4 linked regions of the Homo sapiens genome follow. The protein of the gene in region 1 interacts with the protein of each later gene in a biochemical or structural test. Each region holds a gene or a part of one and is shown in the gene's direction. Other genes may lie near its edges.

Region 1 (7,021 bases):
GAACCAGAGTGGGTGGCCCTGGCCTGGAGGCACGGTGGGTTAGTGTGTGACACACGTGGCTTTCCCCCGACCCCCAGCTGCCTCCTGGGAGTGAAGAGGAGGTCTTATTTGCCAACACATACCGCACCACACACCCACAACACACTTGGTGCCAGAATCAGCCTTTTGCATCGCTCTTGGCGCTGAATCAGAGTCTGTCTTGGGGAGGGATGTCTTCCTTCTCTCATTACATGCGCCCAGCTTAGGTGGTGTAGTGAGGGAGTGTACAGGGCTGGGATGCCACAGCCTGCTTTCCTCCCCGTGTCCTGGGGTCCCCCGTCTGTCCAGTGCCCAGAGCTATTAATAACACCTTCATTGAAATGGGTGTAATGGAATCCCAGTTGCCCCCCCCAGTGGGACTCCAACACATGGGGAGTGGGGAGCAGAATAATAATAGCAAACACGGATGCAGTACTTATTACGTGCCAAGCGTTATTCTTAGTTATTTACATCATGCACATCTATTAACTCATCTTGTATAGCAAGCCCATGAGGTGGGGACTATTACTGTCCTATTAATGGGTAAGGGAACCAAGGCACAAAGGGGTTGGAAACTTTTCCCAGTTCACATAGCTAGTGAGCAGTGGCGCTTGTGAAGGGGGTCCTCCTGAGGGCCTGGGGCCTGCTCCTTCCCAGTCTTGTCTTCATGTCCACCTTGCTGACGAGTGGCACATCAGGCCCTGGGTGCCGGCTGCTTTCCTGTCCTCTGGCTCAGCCAGGCTTCTAATGCTGACCACTCCTGAGTCTTTCCACGTGGCTCCACAATGGCAGACTTGCAGGAGGAGATGAGGGGAACCATGCATACCTTGAATAGGGGGAGGGGTCCTGTCCTTCTTCCCCTCAGGTGCTGGAAGAGACAGAGAGGCATGGGACTGTATTTAGGCAGCTCCCGCAGCTCCCTCACTGCCGCTGTCCTAGAGCTTCCTTCCCAGGCAATGCGCTCTGTGGCTTGGGCCCCTGCCCCTGCCACAGTTGGCAGGGGGCCTTGCCTGTGGCGTTGCAGCTGAGCACACGCAATCATTAACCTTTTCTACGTGTAAGAGAATTTCAGGCACAAACTGTGGGGCTGAGGTGAGTCACAATGTTGGACCGGGGCTTAGTTTGGGCTTAAAATATTTCACAATTCCTCCAGGCATTCTTTGACTAATGATCTATGGCTTTTTAGTGGGAAGACCCTTCCTTCTTCTAGTCTCCAGTCCTCAGAGCATGGTTCAGGGCCTGTTGGCCTTCACTGCCCATGGCCATGCCCATGCCCAAGGAGCAGGGGCCTTGGCTTCTGGGTGGACCTGCCGCCTCGCTCTGCTGGTGGCCTCTGGCAGTGCCCTAGGAGTCCTGCTTTCCTTCCCTGTCTCTTCTTTGGCTTGGAGTGCAGGCCACCTCCCCTGCTGTTCTTTACTTAGCCCTGTACTCCAGATTAGCACATTCTTGGTTTCCTCTCTCCAGGCCTTCTGCGCTCCACACTTGTCCACAGAGCCACTTTGGCACTTCAGGGCTGTGCCCCCAGGACGTCAGCCAGCCTGCCTCGCCCATCTGAAGGGCTTTCATTGCTTGGGTTGATTTTCTTATCCAGTCAGGGATTTCTGATAAACATGTGCCTGGATGGATGTCAATGACCAGTCCTTTTTTTTTTTTTTTTTGTTAAATTTAATTTAAGTTCTGGAATACAAATGCAGGATGTGCAATGACCAGTCTTCATGGGAAATTCTTGCTAAGTTTCTCTAAGAAATTTAAAATACTACCTTTTCCAATTTATTTCAGGATGGAAAGGACAGCTCACCCTCAGTCACTGGGGGAGAGAGTTTAGTAGGGAGAAGAAGCAACAGAATGAGGGGGTGTTAGCTCAGAAGTTCCTAACCACTAGGTGAGGGAAGGAAGAGGGGAGGGAGTAAACAGAAATCAAATTAGATCTTGCCCATTAGAAACTCAGTTAGGTTGGGCAGATAAGGCATAAATATGCAAAATGGTAAATTTTTTCAAAGTGGAAACTACCCTATATAGAGTTTCTGAAGCACCTTCAAGGATATTATTTCACGAAGTTGAATCTAATTTTACAGATGAGGAAACCCTTTCCAGAAAGATAGGTGGGCTTGCATGACACAAGCTAGGAAGTGCAGAACTGGGATTCAAAATGCATGCGATTGCAAAGCCTAGGTTCACTGTGCTACATCCGTCTCCTCTAATGGGTAGAGAGTTTGTGCAAGTCTGGAAGTGTGATGTGAACCTAGCCCTTCTTGCACAAACTCTCCTTTGCCTTGTGCCACGCACTCCTAACGTGTTCAGGGCAGAAAGTGCGGAAGTTGCAGTGAGCGCTTGGAATTCAGGGGGTGCTAAGGAGCATGCATTTAGATTTGGATCTTGGTGCATCCTCACTTAGCACAGCTCTGGTTGGCAGATGTCCTGGTGGTCGTCACTGGGCTGAAGACAGAAACCCAGCCTACAATCTTGGTGATAACTTGTGCTGGTTACATCCACATGCTCCAAGCTCAACTCAGTGGTGACGGAGGAACCCCCCTGTACTGTGGCATTAATGGTACTGGTTGACAGTGATGAATGCCTTTCTGATAATAAAGCACTTTTAGAGGTATTATTTCATTAGATGCTCATAATGTTTCTATGAGGGGGAGGCTAGGCAGGTATCATCGCTCCTAAATGCATGTGGCACAGGCTCTGAAAGGTAGACCTCTCTGTGAGGCTGTGCAAGAAGAAATTGACAAATTTCAGACTGGGCCAAGTCTTCCCTGATTGTAACTCTACAACCAGGCATTGCTTCTGAGTAAATCTGACAACTTTGATTCTTCTCCTCTGGGCTCCAGTTCCTGTGTGCCTGTAGGGGGCGATCGAGGTTCTTTCTGCTTGGCTGCTCTGGAAACCTTGTTCCTCCTGAACCCTTTGAATTTAGCACTCTTACAGCATGTAATCTCACTGGATTTTAAGGATTTTCTGTGTCTCCCCTCATATCTTCTTCTGCCCCCCACTAGCCTAGGCTTTTCCAGATCAGGACTGCTCTATTTGGTTTTGACATTCAGTGCAATGCATGGCCCATAGTAGGAGCTCAGTAAATGCTTGCTGGATTGAATTATATACAAAGGAAATTGGCCAGTGCCTTCTCTTGCTCCCCTTAGAGCATGGGAAAGTAAACTTTTTTCCTGGTACATCCAAATGAATGAAGTTGAAGGCTGGGCATGGTGGCTCACACCTGTAATCCCAGCACATTGGGAGGCCAAGGTGGGGTATCACTTGAGACCAGGAGTTCGAGACCAGCCTGGCCAACATGGCGAAACCCGGTCTCTACTAAAAATACCAAAAAATTAGCCAGACGTGGTGGCTCACACCTGTAATCCCAGCTACTCAGGAGGCTGAAGTGGGAGAATTGTTTGAACCCGGGAGGCGGAGGTTACAGTGAGCCAAGATTGTGCCACTGCACTCCAGCCTGGGCAACAGAGCGAGACCCTGTCTCAGAAACAAACAAACCCTAATGAAGTTGAAAGTGGCAGAACTCAAGACCCATGAGGTGTCCTCATATGGCCACAAGGTGGCAGTGTGACCTCCTGGGAACCTTGCCTCCTGCAACTATTGGCTCCGGCCACCTGTTACTCCATGGGAGAGACCGAGTTATCTAGTCATTGATTCCTTCTAGTCACCTGTTTGGGGAATTGCCTCTGCAAAGTCAGTCTGAGAAATCTTGGCTTCCAGCCTCCTCTAAAAGCTGGGTGGTGTGGTGGAAAGACTTGGTCTTTGGAGTCTACCAGGCCTGGATTCCAACCTTGGCTCTGCCTTTTCTCAGAAACTTAGCCTTGGGCATGCTACTTCTCTGAGCCTCAGCTTCCCCATCCTGTAAAATGGCAAATGTACAGTTAGGAAAAACCCAACATATCATGGGCCATAGCATAAATGTATGCCAGCATTCTTGTTGGAAATGCTCATTTGTCCTTCCCTTCCCTCTGCAAGCTGGCTCCATCATGGCCATCTGATCTTATTTGCAAGCTTCAGACACTTTCCAGCAGGTTCTTAGGCCTCCCTGCTGTATCACCCCAGCTCCACTCCATCTCGGTCAGTCAGCACCTGCTTCCCACGTTTCCCTCTGCCTTCATGCCTTCCCTCTGCCTGTCCATTTCCTTCCCAGCATGTCTCTTGGACACCCCAGCCCTCTGAATGTCCAAAGCAGTTGGAGTGTGGACTGTGTAGGGCTCATCTTGACTTCCCATGAAGATGCTAAATCTGTGAGTGTCCTTGTCTTAATTATTTTGGCACCTGCGCTTGCACTTAGACAATTGGTGATAAAAATGACAGCTATTAGTGAGTGCATGTCAGATACTCTGTGAGGTGCTTTGTGGAAATATTTCATTTAATCCTCACAACAAATCTGTGAAACAGAAGCCATTATCCATCCCCACTTTACAAAGGAAGGGTAGATCAGGATGCTTTTGGCTCCAAGCAATAGACAATTTCATGAAAAGCAGCTTAAACAGTAAGAAGAGTTTATTATCTTGTCAAAAAGAAGTACTGAGGGATCCCTGGTGATGGCAGCGAGGATCCAGGTGATTGCCATTTCTCCTGGTTGCCTTCCTCAGTGCATTGGTTTATCCTCTTAGGCCCCCCTTACTGGTAATAATGTGACTGTCATGGTCCCAGGTGCCATATGCAGGAGAGATGATGTACATTTCTTGTGCTCCCTTTAAGAAGCCTCTTAGCAGATTTCTTTTTTTTTTGAGATGGAGTCTCGCTCTGTTGCCCAGGCTGGAGTGCAGTGGCGTGATCTCGGCTCGCTGCAAGCTCCACCTCTCAGGGTTCACGCCATTCTCCTGCCTCAGCCTCCTGAGTAGCTGGGGCTACAGTCGCCTGCCACCATGCCTGGCTAATTTTTTTTGTATTGTTAGTAGGGACGGGGTTTCACCGTGTTAGCCAGGATGGTCTTGATCTCCTGACCTCGTGATCTGCCTGCCTCGGCCTCCCAAAGTGCTGGGATTACAGGCACGAGCCACCGTGCCCGGCAGCAGATTTCTTACAAGGCTCTTGGCCAGTTGAGTTGTAGGCTTGTTCCCAAGCCAGTCACTAGCAAAGGGACTGGAATTAATGAGACTGGCTTAGACAGGTCAAGATTGAACCCCTGAGGCTGGTGAGAAGCCAGCCTCCTTTAATACCCCTAGCCAATTGGTCCAGGGAGAAGAAGGGGCATCAGTGAGGTTCGACGAGTTAAGTAACTTGCTCAAGCTTGGAAATCTAGTAATAACTGGATTCATACTGGCATCCGGCTGACTTCCAAGGCCATCTGTTGCCAGGTTGAAGTCAACTACAGAGGTAGAGAGAATATTGCTCTGGATTTGTTGTGCTGGGTCTGAGTAATTGCTGAGGGGCCTTTTCCTATGGACTCTGGAGTCTCTCTTCTCTCTAGCCCCCTTTCCAATACTGTATTGGTTTTTCTCAGTCTGCCTTTCTCCCCGAAGCCCCTTCACCCCCTGCTTCCCAGTACCTGAGTGCTGCCTGCCTTCCACAGTAGACTTTATGGCCTAAGCTGGAGACAGGTCTAAGCTGGACCGAATGGCCTGAGGGCTGATCTCAGTGTAGCTGTCAAGGCCCCAAGAGAGTCATCATGAGATTTCATATAGAGCAGATAAGGAACTGCAGAGGCCTCAGGAAATGTGCCAAGGGGGCTGGTGGGGGGGGCCAGCAGGAGTGGGGGGTTTGTGGTATGTCGGTGGCGATGTCAGGGCATGTGGGCCAGGGGCTTAGAGCAGGCCCATGTGACAGCGCAGTTACTCAGAAAGCTGTTTGGCCTGCAGATGCTTCAGGACTGCCCCAAGGCCCGCAGGGAGGTGGAGCTGCACTGGCGGGCCTCCCAGTGCCCGCACATCGTACGGATCGTGGATGTGTACGAGAATCTGTACGCAGGGAGGAAGTGCCTGCTGATTGTCATGGAATGGTAAGCAGCCACTGTTCTAGTCCCGGCCCAGCCTGTTCCCACTCCTCACTCAGGCACCTTACCCTCTGAGGACAGCCCAGGGATGGGCCTGAAGCCTGGAATGTAAACACTTGATTTTTTGGGGGGCAGTGGAGAGTGGCGGCGGGCTGTTGTGTTCTCTGGATCTCACTGTGGCTTCATTTCAGTTTGGACGGTGGAGAACTCTTTAGCCGAATCCAGGATCGAGGAGACCAGGCATTCACAGAAAGAGGTAGAAAGGGTCTGTTGTGGGAGCACGTGCAGGCAGGCAGGGCAGTGGGGGTCTGAAGGGGGCCTTTGCAGTGCCTGCTCTTGGGGAAGGGTGCTGAGGCTGCTGCCCCCTCCAGCATGCTGCAAGGGGTGCCTCAGCTGACCAGGGAAGCTCCTGGTGGCTTTGTTTCTGGGGTGGGTGGTGGCTGTGGGGAGCCTCAGGCTGCACAGAGGTGGGACCCGGTGCACTGGGTTTTCAAGCCTAATGATGTGTCTTTGTGACTTTCTTTCCCACTCACTCTTCCCTCCCCTCTACAGAAGCATCCGAAATCATGAAGAGCATCGGTGAGGCCATCCAGTATCTGCATTCAATCAACATTGCCCATCGGGATGTCAAGGTGCCAGCTGTTCATAACCCTGAGCCCGAGTGCTGTGGGGGGCAACAAAGGGGCTGTGGCCACCCCAGAGATGGTTGCCAGGCCACCCTGCGTCCTTGCTGCCTGGTTCCTGAGCATGCCATTCTCTGCCTTGTAGGGCCTTGCCCTCTCTGCCCATGGGCAAACCCCTAAACCCAGTAGTGAAGCATTCTCTGGCCCCACTCAGCCCTGTGGTTCTCCTCAGGCAGAACCCCTCAGTCACACTCTTGGTTTCTCTGTTCCTGTGGTGTTTACTGCGGGTTCTGTGTGTCAGTCTGTTATCTCCAGGCACTCTGGAAACCCTGCAGAGGCAGGCACCTGCCCATAGAGAGCTGCCACTCCTCGTGGTGGGCAGTGCCCAGGATAGGCAAATGGTTGCTGGATGAGTAGAGGAAGGGAGGAACCAGGATCCTTTTCG
Region 2 (7,200 bases), on another chromosome or scaffold:
GCCCAGGCTGGAGTGCAATGGCATGATCTCAGTTCACTGTAACCTCCGCCTCCTGGGTTCAAGTGATTCTACTGCCTCAGTCTCCCAAGTAGCTGGGATTACAGGCGTGTGCCACCACACCCGGCTAATTTTTTGTATTTTTAGTAGAGACGGAGTTTTGCCATGTTGGCCACACTGGTCTCGAACTCCTGACCTCATGATCCACCCACCTCGGTTTCCCAAGGTGCTGGGATTACAGGCGTGAGCCACCATGCCCAGCCAAAATAAAAAATAAAATTTTTAATTAGCTAGGTTTATGGGTGCATGCCTGTAGTTCAGGCTACTCAGGAAGCTGAGGTGGGAGGATCACTTGAACCCAGAAGTTCGAGGCTATAGTGAGCCATGATCATGTCACTGCACTCCAACCTGGGCCACAGAGCAAGACTCTGTCTCAAAAAGTGAAAAATAAATAAGAAACAGAATATGACCAGTTGCCAATATCCCCTTCATGGCCCCTTGCAGTCACCACCATCTTTCTGAAAGGTAACTAGTACCATAACTAACTTTTTTTTTTTTTGAGACGGAGTCTCGCCCTGTCACCCAGGCTGGAGTGCAGTGGCTCAATCTCGGTTCACTGCAACCTCCACCTCCTGGGTTCAAGCAATTCTCATGCCTCAGCCTCCATAGTAGCTGGGATTACAGTTGTGCACCACCATACATGGCTAATTTTTGTGTATGTATATATGTGTGTATATATATGTTTGTGTATATTACATGTGTGTATATATGTATATTACATATGTGTGTATATATGTATATATACATATATATGTATATGTATATATACATATATATGTATATGTATATATACATATATATGTATATGTATGTACACATATATATGTATATTATGTATATATACACATGTATGTATATTATGTATATATACACACATATATGTGTGTGTGTGTATATATATATATATTTTTTTTTAGTAGAGATGAGGTTTCACTATGTTGGCCAGGCTGGTCTCGAACTCCTGGCCTCAAGTGATTCGCCTGCCTCAGCCTCCCAAAGTGCTGGGATTACAGGTGTGAGCCAGACCTAAACAGCATGTTCTCTTTTGTGTCTTCCTTCTTATGTTTGACATTGATGTGAGATTCACTCCTACTGTGGGTAGCGCTTCTGTCCTTTTCATCACTGTATAAAATAACTTTGTTCTATTTACCCATTTTATTGTTGATGGGCATTAGGGTTGCTTTCTGTTTGGAGCTAAAATGATTAACATGGCCATGAATATTTGTGTACATGCATTTTGGCACACTTGAACTGTATTGTAGCTTCTGTGCCAACTTTTCCCTTCCCATGGCCTTCTGTGGCCACCTCCTCGCCTTCCTACATGATTTCCATAGTTGCCTGTGACCTCATTCTGGCCACCTTCAGTGACTCTCCTGGGTGCACCTCTGAACTATGGACTCGGCTACTCCCTTGTGGTTTCTATCTCAGCCCCAGCTTTGCGGTCCTGTCTCACTACATCAAGTCCTCAATGCTGGTGCTCCCCAGATCCAGGGTCCTAAAAACCCTTTGTACATCCTCAATGGGCATTACCATCTTCATGCTAATCAACACCAAATCTGCCTCCTGACTACACCCCCCAGCCAGTCCACCAGCACAAAACTGAGCTCATCAAATTCCTCCAAGAAGTATGCCTCCAATTGTTGAAATGTTACATCCACCCAGGTACTTGAATCATTACCTAAGAATCATTCTAGCCTCCTCCCTTCCCTCTAGCCCCCTACAATCTTAACTCTCAATTATCAAAATCTGATGAGATCTACCTCCTTCAGGGCTCACAGAATCATTCCCTTCCTTTGTCTCCAAGGCCCCCACCTTGCTTCAGAATCTCCCAGACTTTTGAGACAGCCACCTCCTTTTTCCTCAGGCCTCCCCACTCTCCTCCACTGATCCACCCTAAAGCAAATCTGATCCGGTTATCACACACCCTCCACTGTCCACAGGATAAGGCCAAACTCTTCAGCAAACTCCAATCCTTTCAAGAACTGTCCCTCACAGCCAGTCCCATGTGCCCATTCTAGAACCGACTGGATCAACTCAGGAGTAGCTCCCGGCAAGTACGGCGTTCCTCCTCACCTCCTGGCTGCCGAGGGCCGTTTCCTTAGAAAGCACTTCCCACCAGCCCCAAGCTCCCCTTCTCCAGCAACCTTGACCTTTAGTTTTAATCTCCTTTAGGACGTGCCCCCCACCGTACTGCCTTCCCCAGTCCCCGCCCCTCCTCTAGGTGCCCACCATCCCTCCACAAACCACAGCTATTGTCATGGTAATAATTCCATTATTAGAAGGAGCTTTATGCTCAGCGGACCAGAGCTCCCTGAGAGCAGGGATTGTGGTATTATTTCAAGCACTGAATTTGTTCTAGTAATCCTTAAATAAACATATGTTGAATGAATGAATGCAGTAACAGGAATGTTGAGCCAAGTTTTGTTTTTGTTTTTTGAGACGGAGTCTCGCTCTGTTGCCCAGGCTGGAGTGCAGTGGCTCGGTCTTGGCTCACTGCAAGCTCCGCCTCCCGAGTTCAGCCATTCTTCTGCCTCAGCCTCCCGAGTAGCTGGGACTACAGGCGCCCGCCACCACGCCCGGTAATTTTTTGTATTTTTAGTAGAGCCGGGGTTTCACCATGTTAGCCAGGATGGTCTCGATCTCCTGACCCCGTGATCCGCCCGCCTCGGTCTCCCAAAGTGCTGGGATTACAGGCGTGAGCCACCGCTCCCGGCCTGTTGAGCCAAGTATTAAACCACATAAAACACAGGAGGAGAGGAAAGTATTCAGAGATACGACAGGGAGAACTATTTGAAACAGTGGGACCACAGACCATGTGAACTGTGCAGAGAGGCCTAAATAGCCTGGGGTTTCTGGAGGGAAGGGAGGTTCCTGGGTGGTGGAGCACTGGTGCACAGAAAAGGAGATGAATCCTGAGAGAGAGGTTCCTCACTGTGAAGGGTCTGGTGTTGGGGCCAAAGGTTTGGGGTTTCCACCTGTCCAGCATGGCTTTTCAAACTGTAGGGTTTTTTTTTTTTGAGTGGGGGGCAGGGGGTGTCTCACTTTGTTGCCCAGGCTGGTCTCAAATTCGTGGGCTCAGGCAATCCTCCCACCTCGCCCTCCCAAAGTGCTGGGATGATAGGCGTGAGCCACTAAGCCCAGCAGTAGGTTGCAATTAAATCATGCACTTATGGCCCTCAAAATCCGTCTAGGAGCTGCCACAGGTTCGGCGCTGTAAAAGTAAATATGCCCACTTAGAAAATGGGGATAATTCCTATGTCACAGAGTTGTAAAGATTAAATGAATTAATACAGATTAACACACTGGGAACAGTGTCAAGTGCATAAGCATTATGTAAACTTTAGCTATTATTTGCTATTATTGTGTTTGCTGTTATTTCTCTCTAGGAGCTCCCAGGGGGCTAAGAAGTGGTGGGAAAGAAAGAAATGATTCTAAGAGCATCCAATAAGGGCTAGAATGGAAGTGAGCAAAAAATGCTGAGGCCCACAGCACAGGTTGTACTGCGGGGTTCAAATCCCATGAGGCCAGCAGCACCCAGGGTCTGTGAGCCCTCCAGAGTTGGGCCCTGGTGGTCGAGTCCAGTCCTGGGGGTCATTGCATTCCCTCCCTCATTATAAAATGGGGCCTGGAGGCCCGGGGCGGAAGAAAGGGGTCCACAATACTGCACGGTTAGAGGCCGAGCCAAGGCTGGATCCGGCCAGACCTCCACAGGTCTTCCTTAGCCTCCACATTGCCTCAGAGTGTGGGGCGCCCGGCTGGGGGCGAGGTAGCGGAGGCCCAAAGGGGGCCGAAGCTAACTGGACGGCAGCTCGCGATGGGAACTACGCTTCCCAGCATGCGACGGGGCAAAGGGGCCTTTCAGCCGCGAGCAGCGCCTCGCAGGTTCTGCTGGGAGTTTTCATTGACCTCTGCTCCCCCTCTCATTTTGATCCCCGCTCTTCTGCTCTGGGCTCCGCCCCCTTCTGAGAGCCGATGACCTGGCAGAGTCCCGCGAGCCGCTTTCTTCTTCCCCTCTCATTGGCCCAGCCTAGCTGCCATTCGGTTGAGAGGAGGAGAAGTTGCTTACTGATTGGTGGATTCCGTTTGGCGCCAACTAGGAAAGGGGGGCGGGGCAGCAGCTGGCCCCACTGAGCCGCTATTACCGCGAAAGGCCGGCCTGGCTGCGACAGCCTGGGTAAGAGGTGTAGGTCGGCTTGGTTTTCTGCTACCCGGAGCTGGGCAAGCGGGTGGGAGAACAGCGAAGACAGCGTGAGCCTGGGCCGTTGCCTCGAGGCTCTCGCCCGGCTTCTCTTGCCGACCCGCCACGTTTGTTTGGATTTAATCTTCAGGTTGCCGGCGCCCGCCCGCCCGCTGGCCTCGCGGTGTGAGAGGGAAGCACCCGTGCCTGTGGCTGGTGGCTGGCGCCTGGAGGGTCCGCACACCCGCCCGGCCGCGCCGCTTGCCCGCGGCAGCCGCGTCCCTGAACCGCGGAGTCGTGTTTGTGTTTGACCCGCGGGCGCCGGTGGCGCGCGGCCGAGGCCGGTGTCGGCGGGGCGGGGCGGTCGCGGCGGAGGCAGAGGAAGAGGGAGCGGGAGCTCTGCGAGGCCGGGCGCCGCCATGGAACTGGGCCCGGAGCCCCCGCACCGCCGCCGCCTGCTCTTCGCCTGCAGCCCCCCTCCCGCGTCGCAGCCCGTCGTGAAGGCGCTATTTGGCGCTTCAGCCGCCGGGGGACTGTCGCCTGTCACCAACCTGACCGTCACTATGGACCAGCTGCAGGGTCTGGGCAGGTAAGGAGAGACCGGCGGGCGGTGCTCCGGGCCCCTGGCCTCGGTGTCGGCCTCGGAGAGATCAGGCCAGGAAACGGACCGGGAGAAGGGCGAGACCCGTCCGTCCGGGTTCGCCGCTCGGGGACAGCCGGGCTAGGGCCTGCCATGTGCACCCCCGCCCGGGCGGAATGTTGGGCGGGAGAGGCCGTCGGGACCTTCCAGGGGAAGAGGTGGAGATCCTTGGGCCTAAGCCCGAGCCAGGCCCACCTTCACCCCTTTCGGATTGCTCCGTACTCTCCTTCTATCTCTATCCCTGGAAGCTCTTTGGAATCTACCCCCGCGGGGAAAATCAGGCTCTTCTAGGCACTCACTTTCACCCTTTGCTAAACCATCCTCAGGATCTTCGTTTGCTGTGATCTTTGTTCCTTCTCAACAAAGGACCATGGCATTTTCTTTCCTGGCGTTTATGTAAAATCATCTCAGTCCCTCGCCCTGTGCACATTCCTGATGTCCACTCTGCTGCTTTCCTAAGGCCAGGTCTTTTTACCCAACTTTCAGAAAGCTTCCTGGGCTTTTCCTGATAGCAAAAAATGCATCCCACGGTGTTTCCCGCGGAAGAGCTACTTTCCCTTCAATCTCTGGCATCCCGTTTGCTAAGCACATGTCTTGTGCGTTTCCCAACTTCTGAAAAGCAGAAAGTGTCCTGTTCAACTTTCATCCCGACTCTGTCTCAGTACTTAGAACACATGCTTTTATTTTAGGAAATACCCCAACATTTGCCATAGCCATCATAACCTGCAATGTGGTCCAAGGCCATGCCCACCCACTCCTTTTTTCTCCTTTGCCCAAGTGCTAATTGGGTGTTCAGAGTGGCAAAGTGGGATCTTTGCCACTTGTGGTGTGGCCTAGAAATGGTTTCTGGCAGCCTGGCTGCTTCTTAATCTCATGGCCTATCTCCTGCATGTGACCTTTTAATTATATCCTATAAATCATTCATGGTTTATTTCTGTTGGTTTCAGTGATTATGAGCAACCACTGGAGGTGAAGAACAACAGTAATCTGCAGAGAATGGGCTCCTCCGAGTCAACAGATTCAGGTATTTAAGTCTGCTGTGTGGGGAGCAATACTCTGAATTTCCTGAAACATGCCTTTTCACCCAGGAGGTTAGTTTTGGTGAGAACTTGAGGAAGTCATGGCATTGGGTGATAAACTTTTTTTTTTTTTTTTTTGAGACAGAGTTTCGCTCTTGTCGCCCAGGCTGGAGTGCAATGGCATGATCTCAGCTCACTGTAACCTCCACCTCCCGGGTTCAAGTGATTCTCCTGCCTCAGCCTCCCGAGTAGCTGGGATTACAGGCATGCACCACCACACCCGGCTAATTTTGTATTTTTTAGTAGAGACAGGGTTTCTTCATGTTGGTCAGCCTGGTCTCGAATTCACAACCTCAGGTGATCCGCCTTCCTCGGCCTCCCAAAGTGCTGGGATTACAGCGTGAGCCACCGCGCCCGGTGATAAACATTATTGAGAACAATACAAAGGAGCCCTTGTGGCTGTTTATGAAGAAAGGAAATAGGTTTCAAATGTCTATAAGGAGGTGGTGTGTGCTTGCCCTTGAAGGATGGGTAGTAAAGTATAATTCACCATACCACTGTAAGTGGCATTCAGGCAATCTTACTGGTTAAAATACAGGATCAAATGATTGGAAGTACAGTGTCATGAAATCATTTCAGTGATGCTGCTATGGAGGAAATTGCCAGTGCATTTCATTCTTCATGAATTCATATTACTGCAGAGTTTATCTGTATTTGTACAGATAAGACCATTGGTGCAAAGATCCTTTAGGTTAAAGGAACTGCAAGAGCAAGTCTTAAAATGTAATGTAGGCTTCTGTATGTAGAATGTAATTTAATATAGAACTGGGGATAGGATTATCACTTGTAGCAGTGTGGTGAGCAAGGGCTGTAACACCTCACTTTCCATAAGGCTGTATAGACACATGAGCTATGGGTGGGTGGGTCTGCGTCATCTGAGCTGGCATATTAGTAATGCTGAACAGTGTCTCCTTCACCCTGCTGCCTTTTGTGAGATGGACACCTTGGTGTCATTTTGTTAAAGGCAGCAAGTGCTTGCCTTGCATGTCATGACCAGTAGTTGTATTTTTCTTTTTCATTTTGAGACAAGGTCTCAACTCTGTCACCCAGGCAACTCTGCCTCCCAGATTTAGAGAATTCTTCTGCCTCAGCTTCCCTAGTAGCTGGAATTACAGGTGTGGGTCTCAAACTTCTGATCTCAGGTGATCCACCCACTTCGACCTCCCAAAGTGCTGAGATTACAGGGGTGAGCTACTGCACCTGGCCTTTTTTTTTTTTTTTTTTTGAGACAGGGTCTTGCTCTGTTT
Region 3 (7,021 bases), about 39 Mb from region 1:
AAAGTACAATTTTCAAATTTTTCAAAATTTTACAGTGCAATAAAATCATAAGTTATCTTTTTTACTGGATAGGAAGCATTTTGCATCTTCACAAGATAAAAGTCTGACTCTTATGCAAAATAGAGATTTTATTCAATATGTCAATTTATGAGGAAACTTGTAAGATGGTAAAACTTAGTCAAACAGCATTTGAAGAACTGGTTATTTATAGATAATTAGACAATTTCTTTTTTTTTTTTTTAATGCAGGGTCTTTCTGTGCTGCCCAGGCTGAAGTGCCATGGTGTGATGACAGCTCACTGCAGCCTCAATCTCCCAGGCTCAAGCTATATTCCCATCTCAGCCTCCCAAGTAGCTGGGACCACAGGCATGCACCAGCACCCCCAGCTAATTTTTCTTACTTTCAGTAGAGATGGAGTCTCGCTACGTTGCCCAGGCTGATCTTGAACTCCTGAGCTCAAGCGATCCTCCTGCCTCAGCCTCCCAAAGTGCTGGATTACATGTGTGAGCCACCATGCCCGGCAAGAATTTTTTTTTAAGTGTCAGAATAAAATTACTAAATTAGACACCGAACTGATTAATGTTTTACAGTGCAATAAAATCATGAGTTTTTGTTTTTGTTTTTTACTGAATGGAAAGCATTTGCATCTTCACAAAATAAAAGTCTGCAGGTCACCATGTGATTTCACAATCCCACATGGCTCTAATCTATAATAAATAGCAAACAATGATTCGTTCTCCTGGAAAATTAAACGGTCCTTGCGTGGACTTGTGAAGCAGTGCACCAGACTGACATTGAAAGTGCATACAGTCCTCCTCTTGGCCTTTTTTTATGAGTTTTTGGATAACTTTCCTTAACACTTTCTTCTAGGTGCGGACGAGGGGCTCAATAAAAAGGCGCCCTCCCTCCAGGCGATTCCGAAGGTCACAGTCAGACTGTGGAGAACTTGGAGATTTCAGGGCGGTGGAGTCATCTCAGCAGAACGGTGCTAAGGAAGAGGATGGGGATGAAGTGTTGCCATCCAAGAGCAAGGCCCCAGGATCCCCTTTGTCCAGTGAGGGAGCAGCGGGAGAGGGAGTGAGAACCCTGGGACCTGCTGAAAAGCCTCCTCTGAGGAGGTCACCCAGCAGGACAGAGAAGCAGGAGGAGGACAGGGCCACAGAGGAAGCCAAGAACGGTGAAAAGGCCAGGCGGAGTTCAGAGGAGGTGGACGGCCAGCACCCGGCCCAAGAGGAGGTCCCGGAATCGCCCCAGACCTCTGGCCCAGAGGCAGAAAATAGGTGTGGGAGCCCCAGGGAGGAAAAGCCAGCTGGAGAGGAAGCAGAGATGGAAAAGGCTACAGAGGTGAAGGGGGAGAGGGTGCAAAATGAAGAGGTGGGACCTGAACATGACAGCCAAGAAACAAAGAAGCTGGAGGAGGGAGCTGCAGTGAAGGAGACCCCCCACAGTCCCCCTGGAGGAGTGAAGGGCGGAGATGTCCCCAAGCAGGAAAAAGGCAAGGAAAAACAACAGGAGGGGGCAGTGCTCGAGCCAGGCTGCAGCCCCCAGACCGGCCCTGCCCAGCTGGAGACCAGCAGTGAGGTCCAGAGCGAGCCAGCAGTCCCCAAGCCGGAGGTAGGTGGCCTGGCTCGTTCACATGCAGAAGGCAGTGCCAGGGCCAGTGTGTGCCTCTGTCACATGTCCTGTTCCGTACAGTCCCTTCATAAATCAGCTCGACATGCAGAAACAAAGGTGCCAGGCTCCTGCCTCGTGCCAACTTGTTGGAGAAAGGCTGTCGCTGAGGCTGAGGGGACAAAAGGACACAAAGAGGAAGTGTGTCTTCTGCTCTTGCCAACTTCTCGCTGACTTGGAGTTCTGGCAAGCTTCTGGGTGTGTGTGAGTGACCGAGCCTCGGCACGGCTCAGTAACTGAGGCCTGCAAGCATCTATGGAAGCCTGCTGAGTGCAGGAGCCTGGGCATGCTGCTGCAGGGGATCCAGAGATGAAAAAGAAAGGGGAGCTCCTTTCTAAAAATCATCTCAGTTTAGCACATGAGACCAGCAACTCTTTCATGTGCATGAACAAGGTGGAATAGGGCAGTGGACAGGGGGCATTCCCAGGGAAGCCCAAAGTGCAAGTGTAGCAGAAACAATTTGTGTGTGGATGGGACAAAAAGCTGGGGATGCTTCAGGGCCAAGGTAGTATTTGAGTTGGCCCTCAGAGAAAGAAGCTGCATGTGATGTTGGGACGTTCACTCTCTCTCAGGGATTGGGCATCTGCTGCACATGAGGAGGACGGGGTGACTCAGTCCCTGCCCTCCTGCCTGGGCCTGCATTTACTGGCCCTTTCCTCTACACCTGTCTGCTCCCCACCAGCTCCCAGGAAGCCCATCTTGAGCTCACCTATCTATGCTTTAAGAGCAGAACCAGCTCTGCAGAGTCCCTAACAATCTCATCAAGTCAGTCACCCACAATTGTTTCACCCGTCGCTTTTGTTAGTGCATTCATTCATTCATGCGTTCATTTACTCACACCACTATCAGCTTCCTGCTACAGTAGCCTCTTTGTTTGTTTGTTTGTTTGTTTTTTGTTTTTGTTTTTGTTTTTGTTTTGAGAAGGAGTCTCGCTGTGTCGCCCAGGCTGGAGTGCAGTGGCGGGATCTCGGCTCACTGCAAGCTCCGCCTCCCGAGTTCACGCCATTCTCCTGCCTCAGCCTCCCGAGTAGCTGGGACCACAGGCGCCCGCCACCACGCCCGGCTAATTTTTTGTATTTTTAGTGGAGACGGGTTTCACCGTGTTAGCCAGGATGATCTCGATCTCCTGACCTCATGATCCACCTGCCTCGGCCTCCCAAAGTGCTGGGATTACAGGCGTGAGCCACCGCGCCCGGCCTTACAGTAGTTCTGGCTTCCTGCTTCCACTTTTTTTTCCCCCTGCGTATATAATCCATTCTCTGGACAGCAACCAGCAGGTTTGGTTTGTTTTTTAGATCAACTGCTCTTTGCTAAAATTATTCGCCTCTTGTATCAGGGTCGCCATAAAAAATTACCACAAACTTGGTGGCTCAAAACAATAGAAATATACTTTCTTACAGCTCTACAGTTCAGACCTTCAAAATTAAGTTGTTGGCTGGGTTGGTCTCCTCTAGCAGTTCTGGGGGAGAATCTGTTCCTCTCCCTTAAGTTCTGGCAGCTGCCTGCAACCCTTGGAATTCTCCCTTGCCTCCTCTGGCTCCTGGTGGCTGCTGCAATTCATGGCATCTCTTGGCATCTAGATGCACCACTCCAGTCTCTGCCTCCATCTCCATCACACGGCCTTTCACTGTTACTGTGTGTCTCATAGTCCCCCTCCTCCCCCTTATAAAGATGTCAGTCATTAGATGTAGAGTCCACCCTAAATCCAGAATGATCTTGTCTTGAGATTCTTAGTTACATCTGCAAAGAACCTTTTTCCAAATAAGGTCAAATTCACAGGTACTATGGGTTTGGATTGGATGTACCCACCTCTCCCTGACTCTCCCCCTCACTGTGATCCAGCCATGCTGAGGTCTTTTTGTTCTTCCAATACAGCAAGCTCATTCCCACTTCAGAGCTCTATCCTTGCTGTCCCCTCTGTGTGGGACATTCCTTCTGATCCTTACAGGGCCGCTTCTTACCCACGGCTCAGAGCTCAGCTCAGATGGTCCCTTCTCACTGAGGCCTGTCTGTGCCACTCAGTCTAAGTGGACCTCCCTCCATCCCATCAGTTATTTTCTCCCACGATTCTACTTTTATCATAGAACACATCACTATTTGAAATTCTCCTGTGTATTTTTTAATTGTATTTCTCTACTCCTTTTCCTCACTGCATCTCCAGCACCTGCTACAGAACCTGGAACATAGTAGGTTCTTTAAAAAAATCTTTGTTGAGTGAATGAATGGATTTTAAAAGAAGACAGAAAATTGTCTGACCCAAAAGAAATAATCTCTAATGATAGAAGTACAGGTAGAAGAGGAACTGATGTGTTTAGGGGATCTCCTGGGGCCCTCACGTTATTCTCACTCACGCTAGATCAGGGAGAAAAATGTGTGAGTCCCAAAGACTCATAAAGTATGACTGAGACCCCTGGGTTAAGTTGTTAGGCAGAGGTGCTCCAGATTTCTTTAACATCTTCCATTCCAGTGCCAGGCGTGGTGGCTCACACCTGTAATCCCAGCACTTTGGGAGGCTGAGGCGGGTGGATCACAAGGTCAGGAGATCGAGACCATCCTGGCTAACACAGTGAAACCCCGTCTCTACTAAAAATACAAAAAAAAATTAGCCAGGCGTGGTTGTGGGCGCCTGTGGTCCCAGCTACTTAGGAGGCTGAGGCAGGAGAATGGCGTGAACCTGGGAGGCGGAGCTTGCAGTGAGCGGAAATCGCGCCACTGCACTCCAGCCTAGGTGACAGAGCAAGATTCCGTCTCAAAAAAAAAAAAAAAGCACAACAACAACAAAAAAACTTTCCATTCTAAGTAAGCAATCTTTACATTTAGGATTTTCTGGAACTGAGAGATTCCACCAGGTCTAGAGAAGGCAAATACATGCCCCAATCTGTTAGTCCTTTTTGAGGATGAAGTCACTGGGTCCAAGTAGTCACCTGCCAGTGGTTGCTACATCTTATTTTCAGGTTAGGAGACACCTGCCTTGCCAAGAGACCTCCCCATCTCACTGACAGCATCTTCCAATCCTGAAGGGTTGAAAAGTCACTTTGGTTGAAAAGCTAGTAGGGAAGAGGGCTGCTTCAGGGAGGTCTCAGGTAGAAGAAGTCTTCCTGCGGGAACTCCAGGAGCTCTGGGGCAGGCTCACTGGTAATCTCTCAAGCCTTGCCACTTCCGTATTCCCAACAGAGCCTTGGGCAGGGGAAGAGAATGCCCAGCAACCTCAAGAGCACTCTCCTCCCAAATAGGCAGCTCAGATGGAGAAAGAGTAGCTCCACTTCCATCTCTGAATGGAATGAGAGGAATGCTTTTCCTCTCGGTCATCTCTGAGATGCCAAACTTTGACGCCACTTAACCCAATTGCCTAGTTTCTTTCTTTCTTTCTTTCTTTCTTTCTTTCTTTCTTTCTTTCTTTCTTTCTTTCTTTCTTTCTTTTTTTTAGATGGAGTGTTGCTCTGTCACCCAGGCTGGAGTGCAGTGGCACAATCTCAGCTCACTGCAAACTCTGCCTCCCAGGTTCAAGTAATTCTCCTGCCTCAGCCTCCCAAGTAGCTGGGATTACAAGCCCGCACCACCATGCCAGGCTATTTTTTGTATTTTTAGTAGAGACAAGGTTTCACCATATTGGCCAGGCTGGTCTTACACTCCTGACCTCAAGTGATCTGCCCACCTCAGCCTCCCAAAGTGCTGGCATTACAGGAGGGAGCCACTATGCCCAGCCTAGTTTAGAGAGAGAAAGAAACCAAGGCTCCAAGAGAGGACAGGAGTTGTCCATGGTCACAGAGCTCAGTCAATGTTGACATATTAGGCACCTGCCCAATCATCAGAATAAACTGCTTACAAAGTACCTGTGCACGTGTGCATAATTTGTTTAATCTGGAAGAGGGCACTGTCTCCAGTCCTCCCTGTTCCTCTTAAACCAGGTCAAGGTCAGAATCAAAATGCCTGAGTCACTAGTGCAAAAGGAACCATCAGTAAGAACAATTACAAGGTTGACCCCTTGAGTTATGGGCTTCCTCAGGCACCCATGTCTGTCCCAGGTCTTTCCTGGATCCCCCAGAGGCAGCACACACCTCTAAGCAGTTTTCTAACCCCCTAACCTAATTCCCATCTTGTTCCTCTGTCGGTAGAAATAGATTGATCAGACAAACTAATTATGGTTGCATTCATGCAATCAGCATTTAACAAGCACCCGTTATCCCTACCACTATGTGAGATACTGGGAGTCAAAAGTGAAGAAGACAGAGGCATAAACAAATAACGACAAGGCAGTAGAATAAATGGGATTCTGCCCTAGAAGGGTGCTATGTGAAGCACAAAGGCTGGAGCAATTTGTTCTTCGAGAGAAAACAGGGGAAAGTTCCATAAGTGCGCCAAAGGCATCAGACGTGTGAAAGCACTATAAAGGGTCACCTTACTGTTAGGTTGCCCCTCACAAGTGTTTTAACATATCGTACTGAAAGAAGGAGTCATCCTGGGGATTTCAATCATAGGCAAGCTGGACGTATCAAGTCACTGCACTTAGGATTCTGTTTATAAGGAAAAGTCGCCCTGAAAAGAGGGCACAGAATCAGATACAACTCTAATACTTAAAATAAATTTAGCAAGTGTTATCTGGGCGTGGTGGCTCACACCTGTAATCACAGCACTTTGGGAGGCTGAGGCGGGCAGATCACTTGAGGTCAGGAGTTCAAGATCAGCCTGGCCAACATGGTGAAACCCTGTCTCTACTAAAAATACAAAAATTAGCCAGGGGTGGTGGCGTGTGCCTGTAATCCCAGCTATGCAGGAGGCTGAGGCAGGAGAATCGCTTGAACCCAGGAGGTGGAGGTTGCAGTGACCTGAGATCGAGCCACTTCACTCTGGCCTGGGTGACAGAGACTCCGTCTAAAAATAAATAAAATAAATACATAAATACATAAATACATAAATAAAAATTTATCAAGTGTTTCTCAAACACTCATTATGTATCCAGTATTGTGTAGGGCACTCAGCTATGCCAGAGACTAACTTACCCAAACAAAGACATTCGAAATATTTGGATATCAAATCTGAGACTTTGCTGTATTAACAATAAGTGCCGACTTCCTAATTGCCTGATTCAATTGCTTTCCAAGTCATTCCCCTTGGTTTCTCAACATTTGATTTGAAATTCTTTTCTCCCTGAGCTGATGAAATACATCCTTCTCTTGAGAATCCCCTACCTTTGTAACTTTGTAGTGTTAACATTGTTCTTTCTTTCTTCTCCCTCCTGGTTAACTGGCAGGTCAACAGACTCAGTTCTTGGCCCTATTTCTTCTCAGTTCTTTTGGGGACACACTCCCTGCATTCCCACCTCAATCATCCCTCAGACACATTAACTGTC
Region 4 (7,736 bases), on another chromosome or scaffold:
CCCACCCCGCCTGGCCTGTCCGCTCTGCTAGGGGCAGCTGTCTGGTCACTGCCCTCTCCTGGCATCCCTCCGATCCACCCGGCCCCCTCGAAGCCTTCCCTGCCCCTTTCCTGTCTGTCTCTGTCCCCGTTGAGAGCTTCTCTTCCTCACTCTCTTCACTCCTGGGCCAGATTCCCAAGCTCACCAGTGGCCACGGCCAGTGGAAGGAAAGGGGCCGAGTGACCCCAGCTCGCGTGCAGGGAGAGGGCACAGCCCCCAGCTTTGCTCCCCACAGCAAACCCCTCCAGCACCTGCGTGTGCCCACAGAGTGATTTGCCAGGGAGGGGCGCTGCGGGATGGCCTGTACTGCGGGACGTCCTTTCCAGCCCATGGTGCCAGCACACAGCATCTCCTGCCCAGGCCTCTCCCTGCTCGGCTGGGACTTCTACACGCACCTCCAGCCTGCTACACAGGTCCCAACCCCCGGCTTCTCCCCTCAAATCCAGGTCTGCACCTCTCAGACATCTGCCTTGTGGCCTCTGCACCTGGAGTGTCCCTGTGTCCTGCCCGCCTGGCACAGAGCTCCTCCTGGCTCACCCCTCAAGGCTTCCCTGCTTGGCTCCATCCCCCGGAATCTGATGCCCTCAGCTGGCTCCATCCCAGAATCCAAACTAACTCATCACCTGATGCAGCCGCTTGCTGGTCCCCGTGCTGCTCGCTGGACCCTGCACCAGATTTGGAGACAGGACAACGGAGGGGCCGGGGTCTGCCCTCCACACACCTCCCTTAGAGTTTCAGGCACTGAGGGAAGAAATGATTCTGCATCTGATTCTTGGGTAGACTCTTAGCTCTTCAGAGGAAGGCTCTGTTCCTGTTTAACCTCCCACCCAGCAAGGCCCACACCGTTCTCAAACACGCATGCACTGCCCGGGTGCAGTGGTTCATGCTTGTACTCCCAGCACTATGGGAGGCTGAGACAGGAGGATGGTTTGAGCCCAGGAGTTCAAGACCAGCCTGGGAAACATGGTGAGACCCCATCTGTACACACAAAAAATTTTTTAATTAGCTGGGCGTGGTGGTATGTACCTGTGATCCCAGTTATTTGGGAGGCTGAGGCGGGAGGATCACTTGAGCCGAGGAGGTAGAGGCTGCAGTAAGCCCTGGTTGCACCACTGCACTCCAGCCTGGGTGACAGAGCAAGACCCTGTCACACACGCTCGTGCGCACACACACACACACACACACACACAGAAATGCCCGGACGGCCTGAGGGGTGGCTGGGCCCTCACTGGGGACACCTCCTCCCTTGCCCACGCCTGCCAGTCCAGGCTGAGTGGAGAGAAGGGCTGGAGGCAGGGGCTTGGCCAGGGAGGGAAGGAGTGAGAAGCGGGCGGCCACATGGGCTGGGCAGCCTCCGGGATGCTCTTTGCTTTTGTTTTTTTGTGAAAAGGTTGAGTGATTTGCACATCAACGTGGAGGGTGTAGGGAGGAGAGGCTGGGGGACCGGGAGGAAGGTGGATGGGCCGCAAGATGGCCCTGGCGTCTGCGGAGGAGTAGCTGAGTGAGAGAGCAAGAGTCTGCCTTCTCCACGACGGTGATGTGGGCAGGAGAGAGGGCTGGACGGCCACAGGAGGACACCCTGCACCCTGGCTTCCCTTTCCTCTGCGATTCGGGAGGTGAGGGCGTACATCTGCTGAGAAGGCCTCCCAGAGCCCCGTGAGCATCCTGGAGTGTGCCTATTCCTCGGCCTGGGTTCCTTGAGAACAGGCAGGGCTCCCCCACGCCGTGGCCTGCTTGTGAGACGTGTCGCTGGAGGGGTTGTCCTGCTGCCCTGTGGCTGCCGTGACGTTGAGCTCCCACATTCTGGAAGTCCGAGATCCTGGGGTGGGCAGGACTGGTTCTCCTGAGGCCTCTCCCACTGCTGGGGGTCCCGGTGCCCCTTGGTGCAACTGTCTTGTGGATGCCTCACCCTCATCTCCACTGTCTTCTCATGGGGAGCTCCCCACCGTGGGTGTCTGTGTCCCGTGTCCACATTTCCTCTTTTTTTTTTTTTTTTTTTTTGAGACAGAGTCTCACTCTGTCACCCAGGCTGGAGTGCAGTGGCATGATCTCAGCTCACTGCAATATCCGCCTCCCGGGTTCACGCCATTCTCCTTCCTCAGCCTCCCAAGTAGCTGAGACTATAGGCACATGCCACCATGCCCGGCTAATTTTTTTTTTTTTTGTATTTTTAGTAGAGATGGGGTTCCACCGTGTTAGCCAGGATGGTCTTGATCTCCTGAGCTCGTGATCTGCCCGCCTCGGCCTCCCAAAATGCTGGGATTGCAGGCGTGAGCCACCGTGCCTGGCTCACATTTCCTCTTTTTGTAAGGAAACCAGTCACACTGGCTGAGCGGTCACCCTCCTCCACCGTGACCTCATCCAGCTAATGACACCTGAAGCAACTCCGCTTCCAAACACGGTCACGCTCTGAGGGGTTAGGCTAGGGGTAGGGTTAGAACTTCACCATATGAATGTGGGTGAGGGGCATGATTCAGCTTCAACAGGGTTGGGTAGGCAGAGGGGAGGAGGGCACACTCTCCAAGCCCTTGGGGCAGGCCGATCGTCACCCCAGCCTTCAGCTCCAGGGCCTGTGGGCCTCCCCCTCCGCCCGAGCGGCTTCGTAGACCTGGGGCTGAGTGTGGTTTTGTGCTCTGTGTCTCCCTCTTGAAATTCTTAGGGTTTTTTTGTTTTTGTTTTGTTTTGTTTGAGATGGAGTCTAGCTCTGTCGCCCAGGCTGAAGTGCAGTGGCACGATCTTGGCTCACCGCAAACTCCGCCTCCCAAGTTCAAGCGATTCTCCTACCTCAGCTTCCCGAGTAGCTGGGCTTACAGCCGCCCGCCACCACGCCTGGCTGATTTTTATATTTTTAGTAGAGATGGGGTTTCACCATGTTGGCCAGGCTGGTGTCAAACTCCTGACCTCAAGTGATCCACCTGCCTCGGGCTCCCAAAGTGCTGGGATTACAGGTGTGAGCCACCGCACCCGGCCAAAATTCTCAGTTTTTGAACCACAGGGTTCTGCATTCTCATTTTGCTCTAGCTCCAAAAGTGAGGCAGCCGGTCCAGCCTTCGGGCAGTAGAGGGCAGGAGGGGGTGGACCCCAGCCTCCACCTGCCTGTCCTCTTCCTGGCAAGGTTCCTGAAGCTCCCAGCGACGATGCTGGGGCTGCCCTTCTGCAGGCCAAGGGAAGGACCTCAAGGGCAGGAGGACACAGGCATTGCACCTGCCGATGCAGTGCCTGGACGGGTGGGTGAGCGGAATGGCTGCAACCTGGAGGCGAGACCCTACCACCATGAGGGGAGCCGTTTCAGGATGGCCTCAGGATGGAGGCCGCATGGTGAGAACCGCAGGGCTCTGCCATGTGCCACTCTGCAAGGGGGACTTGGGGGCCCTTAGGGACCCCCAGGGAGGAGGCGTGGGGAAGACACAGGCATGGCCTGTTCATCTCCATGGCGCTGGGCCTGATCTGGTTTTAGCCCTGCCCATCGTCTGGGCCACGGATCCCTCTGGTGCCTCCACTCGTGGGGCTCTGAAAGCCTCTGCTGGTCTTTGTGGTGTGTTTGGTGGGTGGGGGGCTCGCTGAGTCCCAAGGAGGCGGCCTCCGGTTCGGCCCCACCCTGATGGGTCAACACTCTGGGCCCAGGGCCCTCCCAACCCCTGGCCTCTCTCCAGCCCCTCTTTGCCTTGGGACCCCCTGTAAGTCCTTGCTGGTTGGATTTCTCAGGCCCAGCCGCTGGCCAGGGCTCCCTTCTCCCATTCTCCTGCGCTGAGGTTTCCAGCAGGGAAGCCTTCGCCACCTCTGTGGCTGCCCTACTCTGGCCCAGCTTAAGTCCTCCCCTGCCTCAGCTTTTGGGGTCTGGCTCCTGCAGTCATGCATCCCTCCTCCTGACCCTGGAGCCACTGCGTGGTCACTCCCAGAAGCTGGGGACAGTGAGGGCTGGAAACAGCCTCCATCCCTCCCCTCGGGCTGGCCTATGCCTCTTGGGAGGGTCCCTGAGGCACTGCCTTTAGAGCCTGGGGACACGAACCACTCGGTGGTCAACTCCAGCGACCAGAGCACGGAGAGCAAGGGGCAGCGGGGGGACGAGGCGGATGCCCGACAGCTCGGCATCAGCAAGGCAGTCCAAGACAGAACAAGGCACCCGACGGGTAGAACGCAGGGGCATCCCGGGCACAGCCCCCAAAGCCACCTGGGACCCACAGCTGTTTGATGTGCTCAAGGCTATGACCCCAGGCTTCGAGAAAAGACTCCACCAAGTTCCATGAGCACCTGTAGGAGAGCCGGCCTCTGGGTAGATTTCACCCAAAGAAGCTAAAACGCTCACGTGGTGCTTATGGGATCACAGACGTGTTTGTCCCTGATGCTGCAGGAGAACTGGCCACTCACAGGTGGACCTGATGGCCAGAGCTACTAGCGGGGACCAGGGGTAACATGGGTCCCCCTCCCCGAGCCATGAAGAGCTGCCTGCGGCCATCTTGGCCCTCGCACCCCGTCTCTGTCACCCCAGGCCCCTGTAACTTGCTTAACGCTTCCTGAGGGGTGGTTTGGGTTTTTTTTTTTTTCTTCCTCTCCTCTTGTAGCAACAGATTAAAAAACAACACCCTGACCCAAGCCGAGACAGGTTCCAAACCTCAACCTGCAGCCGGAAGGGGGAAGTGAAACTCGGCTGGGGGTGGGGGCTCAGAAGCCGCCCCAGAAAGCACTGAAAGCCACAGCACGTACACCCACTCCAGGGATCTGCCAGCACCCTGTGGGGCCCAGACTACAGGCTGATGGCGGAGGCTTCGAGTGACCCGGGTGCCGAGGAGCGGGAAGAGTTGCTGGGGTAAGGGTCTGCGGCGACGCCCGGCGCCCTGTGCCGTGTCCACGGGTGCATAGTCCTTGAGCTGCATGGAGGGTGGAGAACTGAGGTGCCTGATGGGGAATCTGGGGCCCCCAATGGGAGAACTTGGATGTCCGATGGGGAAACTGGGGACCCACAGACAGGTGGCAGGAAGTCTTGCTGGGACCCCCCTCTCACAACAAGGGTGGAGGTCTCTTCCGCCTGCCTCTGTGCCCTGGACTCACTGGGGGAGGCGCGTGGGATCCTAAGCCCATGGTGGATGCCTGAAGCGAGGAGACCCCAAGACGTGTCCTGGACTGCCAGGGAGGAGCTGGGGACTGTGGGCCCTGTTAGCTTGGGAAGAGGCAAGGTGGGGGCTGGGGAGCAGCTGTTCTGGGATGGGTGGAACTGGCCCGGGCCTGGCCACCTGCCCACAGGACTATCTGAGAGGGGCTATCCTGCCTTGAGGGTCTGGAGGCCGCCAGGCTTGGGGCCCAGCAGGCCTCAGGGCAGGGCACCCAAAGCTGCCCTTGACCTGCGGTAAAGGACAAGGCCAAGGATTCTGGCAGGTGCCTGTGCTGGGTGCCAGGCACCGTGTGTTGGTTGGAGTGGGGACATGAGGGGGCATGGCAGAGGTTGTGTGTAGGACTGCCAGAGCTGGGCAGAAAAACCCCGCTGCCAAAGGCCTCCTAGCGGGCAGCTGTACTCTGTGGTACCAATGGGCATCCAGCCCTGTGCTGGGGTGGGTGGAGAGGGCTAGCGGCTTAGTAACTGGGCTCCCTGGCAGAGGGGAGCTGCCGGCCAGCAGGCATCCAGGCATCACAGCTGAGCCTCGCCAGGGGAACCCGAGTTGCCCCCGGTGCAGGTCCCAGAAGAGATGGGAGGGCTCAGGGCGTGCGGTGCAGGGACAGGTAGGGCTTTGAGGGGCAGAGGGGCGACGTGCTAATGGTCAGGGGATGGGGATCCGGTGCTGGGGATAGAGGCCGGCCTAGGAGCAGGTCAGCGGGGGCTGTGGCCTGGTGTGCGGAAGGGAAGGCGCTGGGGCCCAGGTTGCAGAAAGAGTGTGATGCCCGCAGCCACACAGGACGGACCTGAGAGGAGGCCCAGGGTGACGCTCACATACCCCAAAACTGCAGCCAGGGCTGCTACCAGTCTCTGCCTTGGTGCTGACAGCAGAGGGTCCCGGTCTACCCGACCCGGGGCGGTGCAGGGACCACCTCCCGGCCTTCACACAAAGCTCCTGTGCTGTTGGTGGCTGCAGTCACTGTCCTGTGTCTGTGTCCTTGGTGGCCGTCACATTGCTGTGGGTCTGGTATGTGTGAGGGGTCTGCATCTCTGACTTCTTGCTGCCAAATCCCACTTGGGTACAGGTGCGGGGGGCCACTGAAGGGACCCCGAGTGCCGTGAGTGGAGTGGAGGCTAAGCAGAGGCCGGGGCTGGCTGAGGGCTGGGTCGGGACGTCCGTGCCTGTCCCCAGGGAGAGGTGGGAGGATGCCCTGCCCAGGCCGTGTGCAGGGAGACAGGCTTCTGGGTGCACAACAGCTGTGTCCCAGCTGCAAAACGGGCCCTCCTGTCAGCACCACCCCCAGCCCTGGACTAGGTGCTGCTCCTGGTCACCTCATGCCCATAGAAGGGCAGGACATGAGCCTCTGGGCTGGGGCACCCCCGCCTTCCTCCTTGGCCTCATCCTTGGCCACCCCCTCCCAGCTGTCTCAAATGCCCTGGATCCCCCGGGCCAGGAGCGGGGAGGGGGGGTTGGAGCGGGCATGGCCAAGGCACAGATGATCCTGGGGCATCTTGGTGCAGATCCTGGGAGGCCAGGGCTGCACCTGTGCCGGGGCTGTCAGGCGCTCCAGCTGGAGAGCGGCGGTTCTCCTGGGCTCTGCAAAGCCTGGACCCCCTCCTTGGACATCCCCTGCCCCCGCGAATTGCATGGGGTGCGCAGCCAAGCCTGACCTTTCAGAATGAAACTGAGAGCCCCAGTGGGGTAGGCTTCTCATTTCACAAGGTGACTAAGGGAACCGGGGAGTTTCCTGTCTAGGATGGGACAGAAGTCCCCTGCACCCAGGCAGGGATGTATGGCCTGGGAAGCCCCCACACGGGAGTCCCCAGGAAGGCCCAGGCTGGGCAGGCTCAGCTGGGGCTGGAGCAGTGGACAAGACAGCCCCCCGTGCATGTCACAGAGTGCCAGGTACGCCAGCCTGTGACGGTCTCAGGACATGCCCTCAACACTAGGTCCAGGGCAGGCCAAGCCCCTCCAGCTGGACAAGTGGGTCCAGCCCCTCAGACTGTCGCATGATGTGGCCCCTCCCCTCAGACTGCCCGGGACGGGGCCAGATTCCTCAGAACCACCCCTCCATGATGTGGTCTCTCAGATGCCCCCAGGACAGGACTGTCCTCTCCCACGAGGCCTCAGGCCAAAGAAGGTCCCCTGACCCTGGGCGGGGTCCAGGCTCCGCTTCGGCTACCAGCCAGGCTGGACTGCGGTTCCTCCACTCGGGGGCACTCCTGTCTCGCCCCGCTGTCCAGCAGACAGTCACTAGCTTGTCCTTGTCCCTTGGGGGCAGGGACGAGGATTTCACAGAGCTGCCTTGTGGCTCTGGGGGGACTCTCTGGTGACGCTGGGGGATGCCTGCCCTCTATAGCCCCCAAGAGCAAGGCTCTCCCCACACTGAGGAACTATCTGGCCTTGGAGGCCTTGAGGCGATGAGGACGGGGCGTCCTGGTCCACAGCTGGGGAGGGTCAGGTTGCCCTCTCAGACCTTGGGTTCGACATATCCAGATGTTGGAGCCCAGCTCTGCAGGGGTGTACCCTCCCTGGGGTCACACTGCATTTTTGGCTGCAGTGCCTGTCCTTGGCCCAGCTGCCCGGGGGTGCCCACCCGCCCAGGCG

Evidence for each region.
Region 2: of the proteins of MAPKAPK2 (region 1) and CDC25A, one has a biochemical effect on the other in vitro, tested with the Homo sapiens proteins (one study listed by IntAct).
Region 3: of the proteins of MAPKAPK2 (region 1) and RCSD1, one has a biochemical effect on the other in vitro, tested with the Homo sapiens proteins (one study listed by BioGRID).
Region 4: of the proteins of MAPKAPK2 (region 1) and LSP1, one has a biochemical effect on the other in vitro, tested with the Homo sapiens proteins (one study listed by BioGRID).

What each region holds. Positions count from the first base shown.
Region 1 is NC_000001.11:206,722,891-206,729,911, forward strand, and holds part of MAPKAPK2 (MAP kinase-activated protein kinase 2), read left to right. Parts: intron 1-5,819; coding exon 5,820-5,959; intron 5,960-6,144; coding exon 6,145-6,209; intron 6,210-6,505; coding exon 6,506-6,585; intron 6,586-7,021. UniProt on the Homo sapiens protein: Stress-activated serine/threonine-protein kinase involved in cytokine production, endocytosis, reorganization of the cytoskeleton, cell migration, cell cycle control, chromatin remodeling, DNA damage response and transcriptional regulation.
Region 2 is NC_000003.12:48,185,401-48,192,600, reverse strand, and holds the start of CDC25A (M-phase inducer phosphatase 1), read left to right. Parts: upstream 1-4,183; 5' UTR 4,184-4,653; coding exon 4,654-4,823; intron 4,824-5,821; coding exon 5,822-5,898; intron 5,899-7,200. UniProt on the Homo sapiens protein: Tyrosine protein phosphatase which functions as a dosage-dependent inducer of mitotic progression. Directly dephosphorylates CDK1 and stimulates its kinase activity. Also dephosphorylates CDK2 in complex with cyclin-E, in vitro.
Region 3 is NC_000001.11:167,696,229-167,703,249, forward strand, and holds part of RCSD1 (capZ-interacting protein), read left to right. Parts: intron 1-870; coding exon 871-1,614; intron 1,615-7,021. UniProt on the Homo sapiens protein: Stress-induced phosphorylation of CAPZIP may regulate the ability of F-actin-capping protein to remodel actin filament assembly.
Region 4 is NC_000011.10:1,848,352-1,856,087, forward strand, and holds the start of LSP1 (lymphocyte-specific protein 1), read left to right. Parts: upstream 1-4,732; 5' UTR 4,733-4,793; coding exon 4,794-4,846; intron 4,847-7,736. UniProt on the Homo sapiens protein: May play a role in mediating neutrophil activation and chemotaxis.